Regions from separate parts of the Homo sapiens genome. Here all the other regions are linked to region 1. The links come from fine-mapping of genetic effects on gene expression. A gene starts in region 1. Each other region holds a variant in brackets. All regions are shown on one strand. Distances are from middle to middle.

Region 1 (8,187 bases):
TAACTCAATCAACATATACACTTAGAATGAAGTTCAATTCTTAATAACAGTGGATGTAGGCTGGGTGCAGTGGCTCACGCCTGTAATCCCAGCACTTTGGGGGGTCGAGTGGGGTGGATCATTTGAGGTCAGGAGTTCGAGACCAGCCTGGCCAACATGGTGAAACCCCGTCTCTACTTAAAATACAAAAATTAGCCAGGTGTACATGCCTGTAATCCCAGCTACTTGGGAGGCTGAGGCAGAAGGATTGCTTGAACCCGGGAGGTGAAGGTTGCAGTGAGTCGTTTGCGCCACTGTACTCCAGCCTGGGCGACAAAGCGAGACTCCATCTCAAACAACAACAACAACAACAACAACAACAACAACAACAACAACAACAACAACAGTGGATGTAAATTTACATTTCAAGTAGCCTTGATTTTTTTTCTAGTCAAAATTTGATTGAATTTATTAGATTGGTATTTTACTTTTGAAAAGTGGCTGTCAAAGATTTGATACTGGGCTGGGTGTGGTGGCTCATGCCTGTAATCCCAGCACTTTGGGAGACCGAGGCGGGTGGATCACAAGGTCAGGAGTTTGAGAACAGCCTGGCCAACATGGTGAAACCCCGTCTCTACTAAAAATACCAAAAAAAAAAAAAAAAAAAGAAAAAAAAGATTTGATACTGAAGAGTCAGTTCTAACATTTTCTTCTTGTTCTCCCGTGGTTTATTTGCAAAGGACTCATAGAGTCATTTGTCTGTTTTATGAGGGTTAGTTTAATTAAACTTAGATAATATAATCAGTAAGTCCACTTAGTTGAATCCAGAAACTGCAATAAGAAACCGCAATAAGTCATATGTTGTCAGGGGCTGATTGGGTGGGCCCACCACTGCCAACCCCTAGGAATGGGTAACTCCCACTTTTCCCTGAGGACATCTCCTATGCTGTTCTAGGCCAAGGCACCATTCCATGGACTGAGGGCAGAGCCATTCACTCTATATAAAATAGTAGTTGACCGTAATGCCTTTTAGATTAAAATTAAATGTAAATATATTTCCTAATACTTTCTTTTACTGCATCCGAAATAGATTGTCTTGCACTATTCTTGGAGTACCGAAATCCCTGGGATACATGGGAGAAATTACTGGTCCAGAGAACAATTTCTCACATAGGCAAGGATGTTTCCATTTTAAAAAACCTGCTCATTTCAGTTGCTCAGCCATTTTATAGAAAGTGAAATGACTTTGAAATGAATTGTCTTTATAGAGATCCATAATTTGCAAGCAAAATCCCCACTCTATGACATGTTCTAAGCAACAGCTGTGAGAATTTCAAACGTGCACTATGCTTTTAACAGTTCAACTGTTGCCAAGGGAAATTGAATTGGCTTCAAAATCTTCCTTGGTTTTAATTCTGAATTTACCCTCAATCAAAGATTGAAGAAAACAGGTCCTTGGCTGGGACACTGAACTTTCATGAAGACTGTACAGGATATTGAGATATGGAAAATTTAAGGTTCTTGAGGGTAGGAACTAGACTGCTGGTATTCTATAGTTCATACTTAGTGGTGATGAACTTTATCACGGCAAAAGTGGGCACTAGCCATACAGTGGCCAATCATCTGGAGTCAGTAGGGGGAGACTGCTTCCATCTAAGAGTCATCTTTTCGTTTTCCATTTCAGTTCAAAGCAGGAATATTTTTATCTTTCATGGCACAAAATTATTTTTCCACTCAAGAGCCATTTCTGGGAGTGTGCAAAGAAAATTTCAAAACTCTAGTGTTTAACAACACAAACAGGAGAAATGCAAATGCATTTTTCGTTGTCACTTGTACATATGGTACATATAGTTTTATTTATATATAGCTCTATTCCCTAACCGTATCGAAAAGATGATATAATGCTGAGGGAAAAAACTAGGCTACAGATCGACACACATTATTAACATAAAGAGAAAAAATACTAAAAGGAAGTATGCAAATACTGTAAGTGGTTATCTCTGAGTTGAGAAAATAAGAATGTTAATTTTTTTGTCCCCCCCCCCAATTTCTAAGTTTTGAACAACTGGTACTCTGACGTTTGTAGTTAGCATTAATAATTTCTTTCTTCCTTTTTTCCTCTCAAAAAATGTACGTAGGGTGCATTCAAATACATTAATCCAAGAATATTATCTGGAAATGTACCATTTGGCCGTCTGCATTCACCAAGCATGCAAACACATCTCCAAATATCTCATCACTTGTTCTAGATAGATTTAAGTAGTCTTCTCCATTAACTCTTTCGGGTCCAACTTGCCAATTAAAATCTCGAAACTCCTAGTTTGGAGCTGGGTCTTTCCGAGCTCTGAGCAGTCGGCTGACTGGCGGGTTATTCTGAATGAATAGACTGCAAACTGTGGCGACAGCGTTCCCACCTGCATTAATTAAACGAGCGCTGGCTTCAACGCTACAGGGGTCTGATATTCAAAACAGACGTTTAAGGAAAAGGAGATGAGGTGAGAGAAAATTCGAAGAAGGTTCAGCGGAGAGCGACTGCTGGGGGTTTCAAGGGGCCCATTTACACAAGCAGTGGCACACCGGCACGGGCGGGGGATCTTATTCCTGCCTACGCATCACAGGGTCCCGTCCAGAGTGGGACTCCCCAAACCCTGAGGGGCCACACTAGCTGCAGGGCGGGATCAAGTCTCCGGGGCTCCCCGACCCTTAGACGACCCGAGCCCTTGGAATCCTCCGGTCCAAGACGACCGCCGCCCAAAGGCTCCGCACAGCACGGAAAGCCAGCCCGCTGATCCGCTAGTCGCACACCTCCCGGAATTAAAGAGCTCCTCTCAGGCCCAGCGGCTTCTCACTTCAGCTTGCCCCACTGCCGGGCGGAAGCGGCGGCTGCACCGCCCGAGATCGCGGCTGCATCCGGGTTCCTCAAGCTTCGGCCCAATCCTCGACCTTCTCTCTTCCCACCCTCCCGTTTCTCCGCCCTCCTGCCGCCAATCCCTGATCAGGTCTCAGCCGAACATGCTGTCAGGGGAGTGAAGGCGGATACTGGCCAATGAGGCCTCGCTTCCCGTTTGAAGTCTCCAGTGGGCGGGCGCCGGAGGCGGGCGCTGCTGGCCAGAAGGTTCGGTTGCGCGTGTGCCATGGACTCAGCCGCCCGGTGATATTGACAATAGGAGAGAGAAAGGGGCATTGACTGGGACCCACCGCGGGTAGCGAAAGGTGGCTCTGGCAGCGGCGGCTCCAGCTCCTGCGGCTCCTCCTCCTTATTCTGTCCCCTTCTCTTGCTGCCGCTGCAGATCCAGTCTTCCTCCCTCCCTTCCCCCCCTCCCCACGTCGTCGCCGCCGCCGCCGGGTCCGGGGCAACGAGCTGAGGCGCCGCCCGCCAGGAATGTGAGCGAGGAGCCACCGGCGGAGCCGCAACGGGGTCGGTGCCGATTTGATGGGACGGGCCCGCGGGGGAGGATCGTGAGGCCGCCGCCGCCACCGGAACGCTGAGGTTCGGGTCCGGCCGTGAGGCCTAGAGGCTCCGCCGCCGCGGAACCGGAGGGACCCCGTACCGGACAGCCGTCGCCCCAGGCTCCCCGCAGCTGCCCGGACCTCCCCCTGCACGTCCCGGTCCCGCCGCCCGCCCCCGCTGCGGCCACCTCGCCCGTCTCCCGCCCCTCCAAGCCACAGATCATCTTTGGATTCTTCCCCAGAAGCTTCAAGGTAACTTAGTCCCTCCAGCACCGCGGCTCGCCCGCTTCCCTTCTTCCTCCCGGTCCTCCTGGGGAACCTATGGGGCACCGGCCTTGGGAAGGCCTGGCCGGGCAGGCGAGGGGTGCGGTGGGGTGGGGTGCGGGAGCGGGAGCGCCCGTCCCACTTGTCTGATTTACCTACAAATGCTTCTGATGATACCTCTCATTCACTCTGCCCCCTCCCCCCTTTTTCTCCACCTTCTGGGATTGGAGGCGTTTTCTTGCCCCCCTTTATCCACTGGCGGGGGCGGGGAATAAAGAGGGGTTTGGTGTGAGGAGGATTCTCTAGCAGCTTATCGTCTCCAGGGCTTGGGGTGTGGGTTAGGAGCAAAGGGAGTATGTAAGCATCCCCACAGACAAACCCCTTCCCTGTCTTTCCCTACTTCCCCTTACCCCCTTTGGATTATCCTGAGCCATGGAAATGCCCCATGCCTGCTGATTAGAGGATGATAAAGCTTCGGGAGCCCTGGCCCAGGGCGAAACCTGTTTCCCTGGGCTTTGCACGGACCCGCTGTTACCTTACGTTCAGTTTTGCAGTGCTTCAGGGTTGCGATCCTTGACGTTTATTCTGGGCCTCGGGCATAAGGGGTAAATGATTTTTTTAAAAGCTACCTATATATCGTCTGTAGAGATGAGAGATAAGGAATAAAGAAGAGACGAAAAGAGTGATGGAGGAAGAGGATTTACTGAAATGTTGTAGTGTTAGAGTTAGAGTGAAGTCTAAATAATTCACATACCCGAATGGAAAATCGGCCCCTAAATTTACAACGTACAAATAAGATGTGGAGCTTTTGGCTGATGCAGTCATTTTGATATTTTAAAGTGATCTTAACATCTATAGTCATTCATAGTTTGTGATTCTATTTTGAATCCATCACATTATATTAAGGCTAAATTAGGTAGATTTTTAAAAACTTTTTTTTTTTTAAAGAAAACCAAAGAAGACTTCCAAATTCCAAACGTCAACATCATATGTGTGCATGTGTTTTAAAATGTTTTTGTTATTTTTACATTGTCAAAATCCACGTAATCCAGGTAACTTTTTATTCTCACGTGTTCAGGAAGAAATTCCCTTACTGTTTTATTTAGAAGTTAAAAACCACTTGTCTTGTCTATTGGAATGACAGGTGAGTAATTGCATTTCAGCATTTCCCCCATATGCATTCTTTCTATCCGAGTCTGCCATTAGTCTTGCATGAAGCCTCAGTGCCATGGAAATGATGGCATCTGTTTAATTTGGTGAATGAAATTAAGCTTAACGCTTGTTACTTTCAGGAAATAGCCTTCATTTTAATAACTCGAGAGGGTTAAACAATTCAAAAGTGCTATTCAGTTCCGTAAGTTTGATGGAATGAAAATTGGTATTTGATGATGAACTTCAAGGTCTAAACCTCAAGGGAACTCAACTTGGTTGTTTCAGTAGGCTGTGAATTTATGTTTTCAGTTCAACTTTGGTGCTTGATTTTCTCATAGTTTTTATTAAGCGTTAATAACGTAAGGTGGCTTCATTCAAAAAGAAGACTTATTTGAAATATTTTAATTATGCCTTTTATGTGTTTTGTTTAAAGTAATCTAGCCTGTCCTCATTTGCAGTGTGGTATAGTTTATCATAGCTAACATAGCACATCCCATTAAAAGTTATGCCTAGATAGTTTCAGTAGTAGTAAATTTCACCTTGCTGTGATACATTGGTATAGATTCTTGAAGTACACTAAGGGTTTTTCAACTCCAGAACCCATTCATAATATTAAGTATCTTGGGAAAATGTATCAATGGAAGTTTTCCAGTTACAGAATAGCTCCAAAAATTACTTGAAGATGTGAAGAGCTTTGCAGTTAGAAAATGGGCAGGCAGCATAGATTTCTTTAAGCCTAGATGAGTATCTTTAATGCTTATAATGGAGTGGCACAATACATTAGAGTTCTCATATTGTTTCCGTGATACTTAAATTATTTTCACTAAATTTTCATGTTTTCCTGTTAACATATGACTTTTCTTTTCTTTGTTTGTTTCTTTTTTTTTTTTTTGAGAAGGAGTTTTCCTCTTGCTGCCCAGGCTGGAGTGCAATGGCATGATCTTGGCTCACCACAACTCCGCCTCCCGGGTTCAAGTGATTCTCCTGCCTCAGCCTCCCGAGTAGCTGGGATTACAGGCATGCGCCACCATGCCTGGCTAATTTTTGTATTTTTTTTTTTTTATTAGAGATGGGGTTTCTCCATGTTGGTCAGGCTGGTCTCGAACTCCCAACCTGAAGTTATCTGCCCGCCTTGGGATTACGGGTGTGTGCCACTGTGCCTGGCTTTTTTTTTTTTTTTTTTTGAGATGGACTCTTGCTCTGTTGCCCAGGCTGGAGTGCAGTGGTGCCATCTTGGCTCACCGCAACCTCCGCCTCCCAGGTTCAAGCGGTTCTCCCTTCTCAGCCTCTTGAGTAGCTGAGATTACAGGTGCATGCCACTGCGCCTGGCTAATTTTTGTATTTTTAGTAGACACAGGGTTTCACCATGTTGGCCAGGCTAGTCTCGAACTCCTGACCTCAAGTGATCCACCCACCTCGGCCTCCCAAAGTGCTGGGATTACAGGTGTGAGCCACCGGGCCCAGCCCTTTTTTTTTTTTTTTTTAAAGGACGGAATCTCACTCTGTCACTCAGGCTGGATGGAGTGCAATGGCGGGATCCTGGCCCACTGCAACCTCCACCTCCCAGGTTCAAGCGATTCTTTCACCTCAGCCTCCCGGGTAGCTGAGATTACAAGCACCTGCCATCATGCCCGGCTAATTTTTGTAATTTTGTAGAGACTGAATTTCACCATGTTGTCCAGGTTGGTCTTGAACTCCTGACCTCAAGTGATCCACCCATCTCAGCCTCCCAAAGTGCTGGGATTACAGGCGTGAGCCATTGCACCTGGCCAAGATAAGACTTTTCTTAACTGATTTTATTTTCTTTAGCACATATTCCCATTTTCATGAATATTGTATATGGGAATTTTAGAATTTGTATAACTCACATGTATGCTTCCACCTTGGGAATGTATGGGTTTATGATACTTCTTTCTCTTCAGTAGGGATATGTCCTCAGCACCAACTACTCCTCCATCAGTGGATAAAGTAGACGGATTTTCTCGGAAGTCCGTCAGAAAAGCCAGACAGAAGAGGTCGCAAAGTTCCTCACAGTTTAGGTCTCAAGGCAAGCCTATTGAGTTAACACCTCTGCCGCTGCTAAAAGGTAAGGCTCATGACCAGGTGATGCATTCTTTTTCAATTGATCTTTCTACATCTATATATAATTTCCTTTTTGTAGAGTTTTATATGTGTTGCAAATTGAAGGGATGGGATACTTCACATACATTGAAGTTACTAATGTGTGACCAAATATACCCACTCTCCTTTTTAAAGGCTCAATTTAGTCTGTCTTTGGGCAAGTTAAAAGAAACATTATCAGGAGAATATCTCACATTGATGAGTAGGTAAACTAAGTACTAGAGAAACTTTAAGATGTCTGGGTTTGTGTTTTTCATTTTTTCTTCTGTTGACGTTTAGGGATACATTATATACAATGACAACTACAGATTATGGTCTTAGGAAGTAGACCCTAGTAGAGGAGATGGTACCATTCATTAATTTACATATAGAAAATGGTATTTGGAAGAATTCGTTTTTAAAAATCAAGAAAAAAATGGTCCATTTATAGTTGTTTACATGCACTCTTGTTTTCACATAGTACAAGTAGAAAAGATATACCTTTCTATGTACAAGTATGATGATCATACTTGTTTAGTATGATCTTTTCTTTGAAATTTGTTAATTTTTTAATTTTAATTTTTATCTTTTGAGATAGAGTCTCCCTCTGTTGCTCAGGCTGGTTCACAGCAACCTCCACCTCCTGGGTTCAAGTGATTTTCCTGCCTCAGCTTCCCGAGTAGCTGGGAGCACAGGTGCCCGCCACCATGCCCAGCTAATTTTTGTATTTTTAATAGAGACAGGGTTTCACCATGTTGGTCAGGCTGGTCTTGAACTCCTGACCCCAAGTGATCTGCCCACCTTGACCTCCCAAAGTGCTGGGATTACAGGTGTGAGCCACCGTGCCTGGCCTGAAATTTGTTAAAAACAAGTTTTTTGGTTTTTTAAATTTTCTTTTGAGACAATCTCATGCTGTCACTCTGGCTAGAGTTCAGTGGGGACAGAGTGAAAGTGCAGGTTGAGGCCGGGCGTGGTGGCTCACGCCTGTAATCCCAGCACTTTGGGAGCCCGAGGCAGGCAGATCACGAGGTCAGGAGTTTGAGACCAGCCTGGCCAACATGGTGAAACCCTGTCTCTTCTAAAAATACAAAAATTAGGCGCGGTGGTGGCACCTGTAATCCCAGCTACTCGGGAAGCCGAGGCAGGAGAATTGCTTGAACCGGGAGGCAGAGGTTGAAGTGAGCCCAGATCGTGCCATTGCATTCTAGCCTGGGTGACAGAGCAAGACTCTGTCTCGGGGGA
Region 2 (8,187 bases), 42 kb after region 1:
AACTTGGCTAGATGCTGGAGTGACAAAGATGACCAAGACAGCATTTTTTTTTTAACAGTGTTTACTGAACACATATTTTATGCTATGCCCTGGGGGTAAAGGGTGACTAAGACGTGTAAGGCACTTGCATTCTACAGGCCATTGCTTTTCATGGGTATAGGTTTTCTCTCCCCAGTTAGACTGTAAGCCTTGTTTTTTGTATCTCATTCCCCCAAACATCTAATACGATGAGTAAATAGTTTCTCAAGCAGTACTTGATTGACTTCTTTTTCCTCTTTTTTTGAGGTGGAGTCTCACTCTGTCGCCGAGGCTGGAGTACAGTGGTGAGATCTCAGCTCACTGCAACCTCCGCCTCCTAGGTTCAAGCCATTTTCCTGCCTCAGCCTCCCAAGTAGCTGGGACTATAGGCGTGAGCCACCACGCCTGGCTAATATTTGTATTTTTAGTAGAGATGGGGTTTTGCCATGTTTGCCAGGCTGGTCTTGAACTCCTGACCTGAAGTGATCCTCCTGCCTTGGCCTCCCAAAGTGCTGGGATTACAGGTGTGAGCCACCGTGCCTGGCCAATTGACTTCTTGGGTGGGTTTTTTTTGTTTTTGTTTTTGCTTTTTTTTTGATTGCCAAGAAAAGTTTTGCTTGCCAAGAAAATGTGAGAGGTATTTGGAACTTTGAAATTTATAATCTATACAATACGTACAGGTCTTGGGCAAGTGGCTACTCAGGTGTTACGGTGGAAATAATCTATACCTGTGCCTGATTCTTGATTGGGAAGAAAAATTTGGAAGTAGTTTAGAGAGTGATTCAAAACTTCTCATATTCCCTAGCTCTTTTAATCTATTTCATTTCTGAATAATGAAGTGATGTATTCAAATTTTGCACTCAGAGGACACTGGCGTGTGATTTTGGGACTGCATGCTTAATCAGAACTTGAAAGAGTTTTTGTTTTGTTTGCTTTGCTTTTAAAACCAGGGTTCTGCCCTTCTTAGTAAAGCATATTTTGGGGCAGGGAGGCATACTGATTGGGATTTTTTCCAAATGGTTTTCCTCACATCTTGCCATCGGAACCTCTTAAATAAGGGCTTTCAAGGCCCCCATGCAATTCTGGTAGTTTCAGTATACCTAAGAGAAGACAGGTTATTAATGATTTTCAGATGTGAAATTCATTAAACTATATAGTAAATTAAAGTGCTTTTGGGGAAGGATAATAGTAGGGAGTATTGAAACAGAACATCTAAAACAACTGTCTTCCTTGCAGTGTTAACATGTGATATAAATGTGGTGTTTTTTGCCCTTACTGCTTGCCTTATGTTACCTCCTTTGCTCTGGAACAGTTGTTTTCAGACTTCAGTGGGCATAGGAATCACCTGAGAAATTGGTTGGAGTTGTTGATTTGCTATCTTTTACCTGGGGGATATGCAGTCCAGGTGGTTCAAATGCTTTTTGAGCAGACTGGATATTGCTTTGGCAGTGTCATAGTGCTTGTTTCTAACCTCTACATAGAGGCCTGTTCCTGCCTGTCACTCCACACCCCACGTTCTTCAATGGCCTCAGTGCCTTTGCTCTATTCATTCCTCCTAAGATGGAAATTCGTCTTCTGTCTCCTTAGGGCTCAGCTCAAGAGGAGGCCTTCCCAAGAAGCTTTGTCTAGTCTAGCTCACTCTGATGATGCCTTTCCCAAAATCCCTCTGTACATACAGTAGTTAAAAAAAAAATGGCTAACTTTCCCTGTTTGGCTCTTATAGTATGTAATTTTTTATTTATGGTCTGTATTGCTCATTGGACCATTCCTGTATATTGCACTGCTTTACTGGTTATCTTTCAAGGTTCCCATGTGCAACTTCAGAGGTTGTGCAGTGCATAATATTAATGTGCTAGTCCTCTGTCTTTGTATTTTTGTTTCTGAGATGAGGTTTCTTGCTATGTTGCCCAGGCTGGTCTCAAACTCCTGGGCACAAGTGATTTTCCTGCCTTGGCCTCGCAAAGTGCTGGGATTACAAGTGTAAGCCATTGCACCCGGCCTAGTTATTGACTATTACTATATTTCATGAGCTTTCAGACACCTTTTTCTGATAGTTTTCTACTGGTAGATTTGCTTTTATAAAATTTTATAAAATTTCAACATGGTAATATTTATCCTTCCTATAGATGGCATTTGGGTATTGTGGTGGGAGTGTTTTCTTTTTCTTTTTTATTTTTTTGAGATGGAGTCTTGCTCTGTCACCCAGACTTGAGTGCAGTGGCATGATCTCAGCTCACTGCAACCTCTGCTTCCCAGGTTCAAGCAATTCTCCTGCCTCAGTCTCCCGAGTAGCTGGGATTAGAGGCACACACCACCATGCCTGGCTAATTTTTGTATTTTTAATAGAGATGGGGTTTCACCAGGCTGGTGTCGAACTCCTGACCTCATGATTTGCCTGCCTCGGCCTCCTAAAGTTCTGGGATTACAGGCGTGAGCCACTGCATCCTGGCAAGTGGGAGTGTTTTCATTATGCCACCTTCTGTGGGGTCCTCATGGCAAGTGAGGTGTTGAGCAGGATGAATCTTGTCACCCTCAGGACTTCGAGAAGGGAAGTTAGGGGTGTCAGGAGGCCGGGCAGCACCTCCTGCCTCTAAGTCTGGTGCCCTCTGCTTCATGCTATGTAGATGGTTCCATTTAAAAAAACAACTTCCAGCTGGGTGCAGTGGCTCACATCTGTAATCCCACCACTTTGGGAGACCAGGGCAGGTGGATCACTTGAGGCCAGAAATTTGAGACCAGCTTGGCCTACATGGTGAAACCGCATCTCAACTAAAAATACAAAAATTAGCTGGGCGTGATGGTGCGTGCCTATAATCCCAGCTACTCGGGAGGCCGAGACAGAAGAATTGCTTGAACCTTGGAGGTGGAGGCTGCAGTGAGCTGAGATCTCGCCACTGCACTCCAGCCAGGCTGACAGAATAAAACCGTGTCTCAAAAAAATAAAAAATTAACAAAACTCTAATTTTTATTTGGAAATAATTTTAGACAAAGTAGCAAAAATAGAGAACTCAGATTGCTTCCCCTAATACTGGCAACTAACTGTCTTTTCCACTTTTTATTGCTGAGTATGGTTCCGTTTTGAATATATGTCACCACCATATTTTTTAACAGCTTTATTGAGACATAATTCACGTACTATACAGTTCACTCATCTAAAGTGTGCAATTCATTAGTTTTTAGTATGTTCACAGAGTTGTATAACCATCACCACAATCTATTTTTAGAACATTTTTATCACCTCAGAATGAAATTCTGTGCCCATTAGCAGTCACTCCTCATTCCTCTCGCTACCTTCTCTCTCCAGCTGCAGGCAATCACTAATCTACTTTAATCACTAATCTACTTTATGTATGTATCTCTGGATTTGCCTATTCTGGACATTTGATGTAAAATTTCCACCATCATTATATCTTATTAACATTTTCTTTTTTTTTTTTTTTTGAGACGGAGTCTTGCTCTGTCGCCCAGGCTGGAGTGCAGTGGCACTGTATCGGCTCACTGCAAGCTCCGCCTCCCGGGTTCACGCCATTCTCCTGCCTCAGCCTCTTGAGTAGCTGGGACTACAGGCGCTCGCCACCACGCCCGGCTAATTTTTTTTTGTATTTCTTTTAGTAGAGATGGAGTTTCACTGTGTTAGCCAGGATAGTCTCGATCTCCTGACCTGGTGATCTGCCCGCCTCGGCCTCCCAAAGTGCTGGGATTACAGGCATGAGCCACTGCGCCCGGCCCTTATTAACATTTTCTATGCAGATCCTGGCTCTCCCTCTTACAAGTGTCTGACTGTGGACTTGTCATTTAATTTGTCTCTACCTTGGTCTCCTGATTTGTAAAGTGGGAGATAATAATAGTATGTAGATGTAGAGTTGTAAGAATTAAATGAGTTAACATGTGGAAAGCACTTGGCTCCAATTTGTACTCTATAAATTTTAGCTGCTGTTACGCTAGGATGTCATAGTTTTTCTTTTTCTTTTTTTTTTTAGAGATGCGGTCTCACTCTGTCACCCAGGCTGATTGTGTAGTGGTGCAATCATAGCTTGCTGCCACCTTAAAATCCCAGGCTCGAGAGATCCTCCTGCCTCAGCCTCCTGAGTAGTTGGGACCACAGATGCACCACCATGCCTGGCAATTTTTAAAAATTTTCTTGTAGAGACGGCAGTCTTGCTATATTGCCTATCTATGTTGCTCTATTGTCTCAAACTCTTGGCCTCAAGAGATCCTCTTGCCGTGGCCTCCCAAAGCCCGCTGTGCCCACCCAGGGATCTGTCATATTTCTAATTGGTTCATTTATGGTCTTCCATATTGGTATTTACTGTTTCTGTGTCATTACCAGTTAACCATACAAGTATGTAACAATTATTCATATCAGTTTTATTATTTTGTCCTAAATCCTGAGTTTAGAATTTAGTCAATGTAAACGATTTCCTGTCACAAAGACTTAGCTGGTAAAAAGAACTGCAGCATTTGGCATTGTAAGTATGCATCTTCATTTGGCACCTTGGTGTATTTATTTGAATGAGAGGTGATGTACCCATCTGATTTAGTTAAAGTCAAAATAAATCTAGGGCGTCGGTTTCTGAAAACCAAGTTTTACTTTCATTAAAGTGAATTTCAAGAAAAGTTGCTTTTGAAACTAATTTTTTAAAAACACATTTATTTCTCATAGACTTTCAATATCAAAGGGGAGACAATATGTTCCTATAAGAAAAATTCATAGTGCCCAAAACATACCCATCACCACCCCCTCTATAGATGGGAAAACTGCTGAGGTTTAATTTGAGTGATGTGCAGGATAGTTAAATGAAGCTTGAGAAATACCTGTTTACAATAGTTACACATTGTCCAAATAATTTTCAGCATAAATAATGAGTCAAATCCAGATTAGGATGTGGCAGAGGGATTGTGAAATACCAGACAAAAAACTGGAGATA[T/C]TGGGCTAGGAACCAGAAGATCTGGGATCAGGACTTGCTACCAGTCAGCTGAATGACCCGGAGCAAGCCACTTAAGTTCTTTGGGCCAGTTTCCTCATCTGTAAAATGAGACAACTGGACTAGAATAGATGGTCTCTTGGGGCTTATCCAGAGCAAAAATTCCTTGGTTTCTTTCTTTTTTTTTTTTTTCTGAGATAGAATCCCAGTCTCTCTTCCAGGCTGGAGTGCAGTGGTGCGATCTCAGCTCAGTACAACCTCTGCCTCCCAGGTCCAAGTGATTCTCCTGCTTCAGCCTCCCGAGTAGCCGTGATTACAGGCACGCAGTGCCACCACGCCTGGCTAATTTTTGCATTTTTAGTAGAGACGGGTTTTGCCGTGTTGGCCAGGCTGGTCTCGAACTCCTGACTTCAGGTGATCCACCCACCTCGGCCTCCCAAAGTGCTGGGATTACAGGTGTGAGCCCCTGCACCCAGCCTTATTTCTCATAATAACAAGATACTACCAAATATTGATTAATTTAGAGAAATCTCTAAATTTGTGTTTTTGCTGCTCTTTTTCTCATCCTTATTACTGCCATAGCCCTTCTAGTTTCACAGTGAGGTGGCTATTTTATGATTTGTATTTTTACATTTCTGCTGTCATATATATTTTTCTCTCTTTTAGGCAGCTCTGACCTGTGATATGTTCAAAATTGTATTAAGGTTTTAGTTACAGATACTCTGGTTGGGTAGTGGAGCTCAAACCAAAACCAACCTTCTCTCTTTGGTGGTGGAAATGGAAGCTGGCACATTCTGTGTTCCAGTATGTCCTGGGGCCTTTTTATGAGTAGCTGCATTTCTTAAAAATTGCCTGTGATGAAGTAAACGTGCATATATAAATGATTTTCATGACTAATTTTGATTTTAAATTTGGAAATACAGTTTTATAGTGGGAAAACATTGGTACCTGACACACAATAAATTTTCACTTACGATTCCTAATATTTACTTTAAAGAGCCATTCTGCTTGTAACTAGGCAGTTTTATATTTCATAGTCTCTGCCAGTGGTTTCTAATTTTGGGCCACGAATGCTGGAGAGGTATATGAAGTTGTTATAAGGGATTTGATTATCCAAATGAACCCCTATCTGCAGACTGATTTGTACTGGTGTTTTCAGATGTATATAGGGATTTGTGACTAATGAAGAATTATTTAAGGCTGGATCAGTGGTTCATGCCTGTGATCCTAGCACTTTGTTAAGCCAAGGTGGGAGGATTACTTGAGCTTGGGGAAGTCGCGGCTGCAGTAAGCCATGTTTGTGCCATCTCGCTCCAGCCTGGGTGACAGAGTGAGACCCTGTCTGGGAAAAAAAAAAATTACTTAAAAGTACTTCCTGAATTCATAAAAATGTTTTGTTATTGTATTTTCTTTAGTGATATTAATGAAGATCCAAGACACTTAAAAACATTCCAAAGGTTCATACACACAAAACTTGAAAAACATCCTTTTCTAAAACCATGTCAAGCAAAGCATGATGTAGACTTAAAAAGAAAAAAAGAAAAGAAAAGAAATGATGTCAAGAGGTTAGTGAAGTGGACAGAGAGGTCAACCTGATAGTATACATTTGTTTAAAAGCATGCATATATTTTGTAGTTTCTTTTGTAAGTAGAACTTAGAGAATTTAAGCAATCTTTGCTTTTTCACTGAATAAAAACCACACTGTTTGTCTTTAGGACCTTAAGTCTCAAGAAAAAAACAAACATTTTAAAAATCCCTCAAGACTTGGTTGATACTACCTGAAAAAGCTCTCTAAATTACAAAGAAGAGATATTAAGTTCATTTCTGATAAGATGGTTAGTTTTGTTGACTGAATTGACATCATGCTCAAAATAAGACATAAGCTGTAGGAACTAAATTCAGTTATTGCCAGAAGTTCACCACATACCAAATGTATTATTCTAAGTGAATAAGAAAATGAGATTTATTGATATTATAATAGAAATATTGAACAGTAGAGAAGTGTGATGCCAGGTGATGCCACTAACGTGAGTATGCTTCTGGCCATTAAAGGAGGATGTTGTATGACATCTTGCATTAATCATTGATTTACCTTTCCACTTTCTGCATAAACCTTGAGCAGGTTCATGTGTTTTTTGTGTTTGTTTTTTTTTGTTTGTTTGTTTGTTTTTTTGAGATGGAGTCTCCCTCTGTCGCCCAGGCTGGAGCACACTGGTACAGTCTTGGCTCACTGCAACCTCTGCCTCCCAGTTTCAAGCGATTCTCCTGCCTCAGCCTCCTGAATAGCTGGGATTACAGGCATGTGCCACCATGTCCGGCTAATTTTTGTGTTTTTTGTAGAGACGGGTTTCACCATGTTGACCAGGCTGGTCTCGAACTCCTGACCTCAGGTGATCCACCTCTGCCTCCCAAAGTGCTAGAATTACAGGGGGGAGCCACTGCACCTGGCCAGGTTCATGTGTTTTTATACTCATTTAGTTACCCTGTATTTTTTTAGTTATCTTTGGAGATGGAAGAGGTGTGGATAATCCAGAGATGATGCTTGTAGTCAAGAAAGAGTAATTGTGGCCTTTTGATGGGGAGCCAAGTTTTATGAAATCCCACGGAGTCAGTCTTCAGATCCAGGGTTCTTAATTGGCTAGAGATCTTGCAAGTTATTTTGCCATGTTGTTTTTTGAAGGGAAAGGAAATACTGTCATACGTTTATGCATCTGTATATAAAATGGTTAGAAATGGTATCATATAGGTATTGCATGTTTGTGATCATAACTGCCTGAATAAAGGTTAAAATGTCATGGGAAAATGGGAAAACTTAAGCAGGAGGAAATAGAGATAGTTTATTTTTAGCAATTTAGAATGTTCCATTTAAAAGCAGTTAAACTGGCTAGAGCTGTGGGCAGGGGGAGGGGTACTGGGGTGGTTTAAAGGCCATAGCTATTATGGTGAGTGCCTGACATTTTGATTTGAAGTGTGTCTCTGCCTGTGTATTTTAGAACCAGAAAAATTCTTGGAAAACTACCTTTTTTTTTTTTTAAACTGTGTACCCAGATAAAATAGTTTGTTATTCCAAATCTAGAATTGAGATTTTAATTTTTATTAATTTTTATTTCTGTCAGTCTTTCAGGCATTTGGCTTCTTTGCTTATTCTTTTAAGATTTAAGTCGGAGAAGAAAAATCACATCCATTAGTTTTGATTACTCAGATCAATAAATTGAAAAGGAAAATTAGAATCATTTAAATTTGA
Region 3 (8,168 bases), 160 kb after region 1:
TGGCCAATGTGGTGAAACCCCGCCTCTACTAAAAATACAAACATTAGCTAGGCATAGTGGCATGTGCCTGTAATCCCAGTTACTCGGGAGGCTGAGGCAGGAGAATCGCTTGAACCCGAGAGGCGGAGGTTGCAGAGAGCCGAGATCGCGCCACTAGCGAGACTCCCATCTCAAAAAATATATATATATTAAAATGTGATTAATATTTAATTTTACCTCTAATTGAATGATTTACAAATAGCCTTTTGAAATACTTTTGTTTGGAAAGATTTATAATTTTGTTTTATCTTTGTCTTTTTCTCTCTCTTAACATTTTATTTTTCTTTTCCCAAAGGTGGCAGAAAGAGCACTCTATTATTGGAATAATGAATACATCATGAGTTTGATAGAAGAAAACTCTAACGTCATCCTTCCCATCATGTTTTCCAGCCTTTATAGGATTTCAAAAGAACATTGGAATCCGTAGGTTTTCAGTTTCTTTCCTCCGTTCTCTTCCTCCCTTCCTCTCTTTCTTTCCCTTCAGCCTTATTATGTGCCAGATGCTGTCCTTGTTGCTGAAGACGTATGTGAAAAGATAAAATCCTTACCTTCTGGGGATTCACTGACTGGAGAAAATAAACAGATACTTTAACAAAATACCGGTTAAAGTATCTGTTTACTAGACAGGCTTCTTGATCTGTCTATGAAGGTAGCAGATCTTTTGGGGAGGCACTGCAGCTGAGAGGAGAGGTGTGTAGATACTGACAGCATGGCCATGCTTAGACTGAATCTGAAAGGAATTTGGCAGGTGGATGGCATGGGGAGAGCCCTTTCAGACAGTGGGTCCATCCATCATGTTAAAAGGCACAAAGATGTAAAAAGCAGCTGTCAGTTTCTGAGACCTGTGAGTTTGGGAGGGCTGAGGCACAAGGTCTTTTGGGGAGGGTGCTAGAGGATGTGGCTAGAAAAGACTGTGGGACTCGTGTGAGCCTTCACCAAGTAGATGATGAGGAAGTACTGAAGGGTTGTTAAGTGGGGAAGTGGTCTGACTAGGTTTTCATTTTAGTGTGATCTATTTAACAGCCAACTCAGTCGCTATATGTATCTCTTGGAAAGGAAGGAGTTTAAAATCATCAAGGGAAGTTTAACATCCAGCCCTATGAAAGTTAAAGCATTCTGAATTTGAATGCCTTTACATTTTTCTCTGTGGAATAGAAGGAAAATTTAATGTGGTATTTAAAAATTGGGAGATACAATTCAGTATATTCATAATATGTTTATCTTTAAAAATTTTGCATGTAATTATAAAATATCACATTTCTAATTTTTCAAATTTGCCTAATTATATTAATAGAACTTGTAAAAATAAGGAGCTGATAAACAGTTAAGTCCCTTTATACAGATAGTCTCTTGAGGACCTAGAGAACGGTTCTAGCAAGTGTCTGTAACTACTCAGTATACTACATTTGGTGCTTTCCCATCACTGCCCTTGGGAGGAAGGTCATTCTGGAACCTTAACAGAAAAGAACTTAAATTTTCCTTTTAATGGCACAAGGCAGAAGCTACACAGCAAGTGTACTTTCTTGTAAATGTTTTGGAAACATCAGACTCATGGTTTATTTAATATATGGCTAATTTTTACCAATGCATTTTTCAGTGGTATTAGGAGCATGTTTGTTGCAAAACGGAAGCAACGGATATTTTTGCAAAAGGAAAAGCTATTTAGACTCTAGTCTGAAGCTATCAAGCCCATCATAACCTTGTCCTCACATTGCCCAAGAGCTAATTCTTGTTAAGTATGGGCTACCATTTTGGCTGTTTAGCTGTATAGTGTCCCATAGCTAATAGCAACCATCCCAGCTTGCCAGTTATCAGCATATATTTTGGGTCAGCAGGACTGGTGCAGATCAGAGCTAGACAGATAATTCATATTGAACCACCCAACCTACATGAGGGCTTGATTTCATTTCTTTGGATAAGAATAATTTATATATATACACATATATATATAACATTTGTTTCTAGGGAAGTAGCTTCTGATTTTGATGAATTATGTGTTATTTAGAAAATAGAATTCTATGCAAATTCAGATGTCTAAGGTTAGTGCTATCACAGATCCTTATTTTAGGGTGAAATTGCTTTACTATTATACTTGCCTTTTTATTAAATGAAATTATCAAATGCCCACAGGCAGCTCTATTCTGGGTGCCAATAATTAGAAGGGCAGGCCAGGTGTGGTGGCTCACGCCTATAATCCCAGCACTTTGGGAGGCCGAGGCAGGCAGATCACCTGAGGTTGGGAGTTCGAGACCAGCCTGACCAACATGGAGAAACCTCGTCTCTACTAAAAATACAAAATTAGCCAGGTGTGGTGGCTCGCTTCTGTAATCCCAGCTACCCAGGAGACTGAGGCAGGAGAATTGCTTGAACCCAAGAGGCGGAGGTTGCGGTGAGCCAAGATGGTGCCATTGCACTCCAGCCTGGGCAACAAGAGCGAAACTCCGTTGCAAAAAAAAAAAAAAAGAAATTAGAAGGGCAAAGTTAGATTTTTTTTCTAGTTCTACCACCCCTCAGAAAATTATCTTGCCTTGAAATCTCTTGATGTGGAAATGAACTGTAGGTCATTTTCAGTTGTTCCAACTAAAAAAGGATACAGACAGTGTGCAGTACGAGAAATCATTCAGACAAAAGTTGTGCTTTTGCTTTCTTCATTCAGTATCCCATTTTATAAGACTAACTAACACACTCCTTTTTTTCTGTGCTTTCCAGGGCTATTGTGGCGTTGGTGTACAATGTGTTGAAGGCATTTATGGAAATGAACAGCACCATGTTTGACGAGCTGACAGCCACATACAAGTCAGATCGTCAGCGGTAACTTTTTAAAGCTTTTTTGTCAGCTGTGCATAAAGCTATTGAGTTTTTTCCTTGCTCTTTGCTGAAGTTGCCTAATTGTACCCCAAATCTTAAGCAGCACAATTTTGTTTACAGTCATGCATTACTTAACAACCAGTATATGTTCTGAGAAATGCATCCTTAGGCAATTGTATTGTGTGAACATCATAAGTATACAGTAATTACACAAACCTAGATGGTGTAGCCTACTATGACACACCTGAACTATGTAGTATTGCCTGTTCTTCCCAGGCTACAAACCTGTGGTGAATACCGTAGCCAATTGTAACACAAATCACTAGGCAGTAGGCCTTTTTCAACCCTGTTAAAATTTTATGGGACCACCGTGGTATATGTGGTCTGTGTTGACCGAAATGTTGTTATTTGGCACATGACTGTATTTATATATTCATTTTTGCACACTTATTAACTGTGTCTTTATTTATT[TATTA/A]CTGTGCCACTGAGTAACAAAGCTTCCTGACACTCATTTTGATAAAGCCCGCTTTCTTTCCTTTCTTTAATAATATTTCACTTCTGCCTCAGGGTTAAGAGCCCAGCATTTAACTGGTATTTTAGGTTCACTTAAAGGGACCATCAGGTAGTTTGCTCTCTGGGATTCACTCCCACTCTGAACTTACTTGAAGTATAATTGGGCAGATCTTGTACTTCACTCCAATAGCAGGGGGAATGAGGCACCATTTATCTAGCTCTTGGGCCCAGGACTTACTAGAACCCAACAAATTTATTACAATTTAAAGATCAGTGAAAAGAACATGAAGGTTAATAGTCTGGTATTAACCAGAAATGTTTGAGACCATATGGGAGAACAAACCAGTGGAACTCTTTGCAATAAATGCTTATGGCTTAGTAAAAATCTTGTCCAATGCATTCTACTTTCCAAAAGATGTACTTGGGGAGATTATAGAAGTCTAGAGAGCTCTTAGTAGTTGCGCCTGTGGTTTGGCTTTGATCATCCATAAGCAGATGTCAGCTTTGTATATCATAAAGCTATGGACCTTAGAGGACCCAGAGATGTGTGCGAGTGTTCATACCCAGGGTCTTGCTGAACCTCTCTGGTTCCCTTGGTGCTTTGCTTTGTCTCATTTTTAGTCTGTCAACTTGCATTTTATTGATAAAAAGAGCAATGAGGGGAAAGGTTTGATGGCAGAGGGACCATTGCAATGATTTTTTTGTTTTAAGTTACCAGGGATGTGGTTTATGAAAACCAACTTAATTATGGAATGTGGTGAGTATTTAGCTGAGAATCTCAGAAGAGGCTGGGATTTTTTACCCAGAATATTGGGATTATTATCAATTATGGGATATGTTATTCCATACTCACAGTTTAAACAACTTTTTTTTTTTTGTTTTTTGAGATGGAGTCTTGCTCTGTTGCCCAGGCTGGAGTGCAGTGGCGCGATCTCAGCTCACTGCAAGCTCCGCCTCCCAGGTTCATGCCATTCTCCTGCCTCAGCCTCCTAAGTAGCTGGGACTACAAGCACCCGCCACCACGCCTGGCTAATTTTTTGTATTTTTACTAGAGACAGGGTTTCACTGTGCTAGTCAGGATGGTCTCGATCTCCTGACCTCATGATCCACCTGCCTCGGCCTCCCAAAGTGCTGGGATTACAGGCGTAAGCCACCGCGCCCAGCCCTAAACAACTTTTAATTCAGTATATTAGCGATTGTTGCAAATTATAAATTTATGATAACCCTCCTTGCCCCAAACTTAAAATCTTTAAAGGATGTTACTTAAAAAAACGGCCAAGGGTACATTTTAATACTGTGTTGCATCGTTAAAGGTGCTTTGTGCATAACATCTTCTCTGAAAGCACATTATTATTATCCTAGTTGAACCAGGATTAAATCCGTAGAATCTCATCAAGAATATTGAAGAACTTGGCTGGGCACGGTAGCTCACGCCTGTAATCCCATCACTTTGGGAGGCTGAGGCGGGCGGGTCATCTGAGGTCAGGAGTTCGAGACCATCCTGGCCGAATGGTGAAACCCTGTCTCTACTAAAAGTATGAAAATTAGCCAGGCACGGTGGCATGCGCTTGTGGTCCCAGCTACTAGGGAGACTGAGTTGGGAGGGTCAGTTGAACCCGGGAGGTGGAGGTTGCAGTGAGCTAAGATCATGCCACTGTACTCCAGCTTGGACATTGGAGTGAGACTCTGTCTCAAAAAAAAAAAAAAAAAAAAAAAAAAGAGAGAGAATATTGAAGAACAACTTATTTCCACTCAAATTATTTGGTTTGTATTTAGTGAACTTCAATAATAAAACTATTTTCTGGTTATTATCTAAACTAAATAGACTAAACCCTTGAAAAAGATGAGAATTAACTAAGGGGACCAGGAATAGATAAAACTATTATTTTATCTATTCCTGGTTGAGGTTGATTATGATATTCTGGCATATTACAGTTATTTATAATGAGTGTACTTTCTTAATGAGAAAATGGGGGCCAGGCGTAGTGGCTCACGCCTGTAATCGCAGCACTTTGGGAGGCCAAGGCAGGCGGATCACCTGAGGTTGGGAATTTGCGACCAGCCTGACCAACATGGAGAAACTCCATCTCTACTAAAAAATACAAAATTAGCCGGGCGTGGAGGCACATGCCTGTAATCCCAGCTACTCAGGAGGCTGAGGCAGGAGAATCACTTGAACCCGGGAAGGGGAGGTTGCCATGAGCAGAGATTGCATCATTGTACTCCAGCCTGGGCAACAAGAGGAATCCCAGCTCTTTGGGAGGCCGAGGCGGGCGGATCACGAGGTTAGGAGATCGAGACCATCCTGGCTAACATGGTGAAACCCCGTCTCTACTAAAACTACAAAAAATTAGCAGGGCGTGGTGGCGGGTGCCTGTAGTCCCAGCTACTCGGGAGGGTGAGGCAGGAGAATGGCGTGAACCCAGGAGGCAGAGCTTGCAGTGAGCCGAGATTACACCACTGCACTCCAGCCTGGGCGACAGAGCGAGACTCCGTCTCGAAAAAAAAAAAAAAGAAAATGGGTTTTTAAAAGCAAGAATAATAATTTGTCAAATGAGCAATAGAAGGGTGTACTGACAGATGGAAACATTGGTTTCTCCATAGGTGTGGGAATAGGACAAGGGAATGAAGAAATTTAGTTGGTACTGTCAGAGAATAACTGAATGGACAATTTTACTTCAGGATGGCAAGAAGTTAATGGTTTCAGTTCAGATCAAATTTTGAAGTATTACAAATCTGAAAATGGTGGGTGGAATAAGTACTTAACACTGTTAGATACATATGCCAACATTAGTGCTATGTAAAATTGAAATTAGAAGAGAATTTGACAATATCCCCTGCATGACAGTGTGGTTAAGCGTTAAAATTTCCACCTACAGGGAGAGAGAAAAGTGGGAAAGATTGGGGGTGACAATAACTGTGTCAGCAATATTTAGGATTTTTAAAGATAGAGTTGTCAGTATGAAAGCCGTGTGATAACTGAGCATAATGCTCAGTTGGAGGAAAAGCCCAACAGGATAAATTGCATTGAGTGCCATATTTGATCAAAAACATGAAACACTTTAGTAACAAGATGATGAATGTTTTAATGATGTCAACACTTAATTAACCAATTTATGCCTAGTGTTCCATTATTGGAACGCTAAGCTTGTGGGAGTTATTTCTATCCCACTGCTCAAGGTCATCGTCAAGGTCTGATTTTTCACAAGAAAGTTTTACAACCTCTGGCATAAATGGGTTAAAACTGCAAATTAGGGCAATGTGAACCTGAAATACATTGAAATGTTTTTTAGTTGAGTAAAATTCCAAGCCCTTGCTTACCATCCCCTTATCTCTCCAAATAAAAAGGTCATATTCATCGAAAGTCAGCAGGATCTATACAATTGATTTATATATACCCAAATTGTGTTTTTTGCTAACATTGATTTAGACCTCATAATTATTCCCAGACTGTACTGAGAAACAAAAAGTGATAATTTGTCAAACAGCTTGATTATGTTTAGAATCTGGAATGCACCAGGAGTGGTGGTGCACACCTGTAGTCCCAGCCACTCAGGAGGCTGAGGCAAGAGGATTGCTTGAGCCCAGGTGATTGAGGCTACAGTGAGCTATGATTGTGCCACTGCACTTTAGCCTGAGCAACAGAATGAGACCCTGACTCTAAGAAAAGAACAAAAGCAAAAACAAAAAAGCCAGAAGAAGATTGGAGGATTATCTAATCTTGCCCTTATTGTCCTATAAGTGCAATTTTTTCAGGGTCAAAATTAACAAATAGGTAATTTTATGAAAACTAGTCTGCTTACTGAAATTTATATTGTGCAGATTTGTATTTGAGATAGCTGAAACTAATTATGGTAAACAAGGCCTAAGTTATGAAAATATTACCTATTAGATCATGATATTAATTACCATATGGCTTTACTAAGCCATAAACATTTATTGTAAAGAGTTCCACTGGTTTGTGCTCCCATATGGTCTTAAACATTTCTGGTTAATACCAGACTATTATGGCATTATAATTCAACATTTCCTCAAGTCTCTAGTGGAATAAGAATATAAAATTACTTAGGTTTTTCTTGAGTTTTTTGGGAGTTGGAGGGGATGAAGATTAATCTCTATTGCTCTAGATATTAATATAACTTTTAAAAAACATTGGTTATAATGTTTTAAAAAAAATGAGGCATTGGAATTACATACAAATTTCACTCAACCCATGTGGATTTCCCTGCGTAGAAATTGTACTGTGGCTGAAGTTTTAATCCTTGCTAAGTGGGGTAGTGCATGGATTACATCCCCATGCCTGAGATGGTGGAGCCCCCATTTTCAGGAATTATCTGAATTCCTGGATTTATGAATGTTAATCTGGATCAGCATTTTTTTTTTTTTATTTTTTTTTGGAGACGGAGTCTTGCTCTGTCCCCCAGACTGGAGTGCAGTGGTGTGATCTCGGCTCGCTGCAATCTCCGTCCACCACAATCTCCGCCCCCCGGGTTCAAGCGATTCTCCTGACTCAGCCTCCCAAGTAGCTGGGACTCTAGGCATACGCCACCATGCCCGGCTAATTTTTGTATTTTTAGTAGAGACGGGGTCTCACTGATGATCCACCCGCCTCGGCCTCCCAAAGTGCTAGGATTACAGGCGTGAGCCACTGCGCCCAGCCTGGGTCTGCTTTTTATTGGTTCGCTGCAACATGGAAAAAAACCAGAGACAGTGTAGTGAATTATTTTTAGTAAATGTGAATTTATATAACTTACAATATAGTCTTATATTCCTGCATCATGTACTTCCTACTTGGTTGATGTTAAAAA

Which allele goes with the higher level. Alleles are on the strand shown, and positions count from the first base shown. SD is a standard deviation of normalised expression in the study named. Not every link is listed here.
In carriers of allele C in region 2, the expression in esophagus mucosa of the gene that starts at base 3,083 in region 1 tends to be higher than with T alone (moderate effect, 0.42 SD a copy in GTEx).

Evidence for each region.
Region 2: its variant is fine-mapped to the expression of PPP2R5E in esophagus mucosa (GTEx, PIP above 0.99). The same link has a PIP of 0.9 or more in unexposed skin.
Region 3: its variant is fine-mapped to the expression of PPP2R5E in blood mononuclear cells (TOPMed, PIP 0.96). The same link has a PIP of 0.9 or more in lung.

Annotation. Positions count from the first base shown.
Region 1 is chr14:63,538,273-63,546,459 of GRCh38, reverse strand. PPP2R5E (protein phosphatase 2 regulatory subunit B'epsilon) reads left to right here and starts at 3,083. Exons shown (of 14, transcript NM_006246.5): 1 at 3,083-3,681; 2 at 6,768-6,931. The coding sequence starts at 6,775. It overlaps LOC112268140 (loricrin-like), which reads right to left and starts at 3,676. Exons shown (of 1, transcript NR_158218.1): 1 at 1,796-3,676. RefSeq lists enhancers at 1,601-1,680, 2,768-2,977, 2,040-3,031 and silencers at 3,268-3,407, 3,448-3,587.
Region 2 is chr14:63,496,677-63,504,863 of GRCh38, reverse strand. All of the region lies in intron 2 of PPP2R5E (protein phosphatase 2 regulatory subunit B'epsilon), which reads left to right. Among named protein-coding and RNA genes, the nearest start is that of PPP2R5E, 43 kb to the left of the region's middle. The variant T/C (reference allele first, on the strand shown) is at 4,947.
Region 3 is chr14:63,376,738-63,384,905 of GRCh38, reverse strand. PPP2R5E (protein phosphatase 2 regulatory subunit B'epsilon) reads left to right here. Exons shown (of 14, transcript NM_006246.5): 12 at 335-462; 13 at 2,749-2,850. Among named protein-coding and RNA genes, the nearest start is that of GPHB5, 62 kb to the right of the region's middle. The variant TATTA/A (reference allele first, on the strand shown) is at 3,319.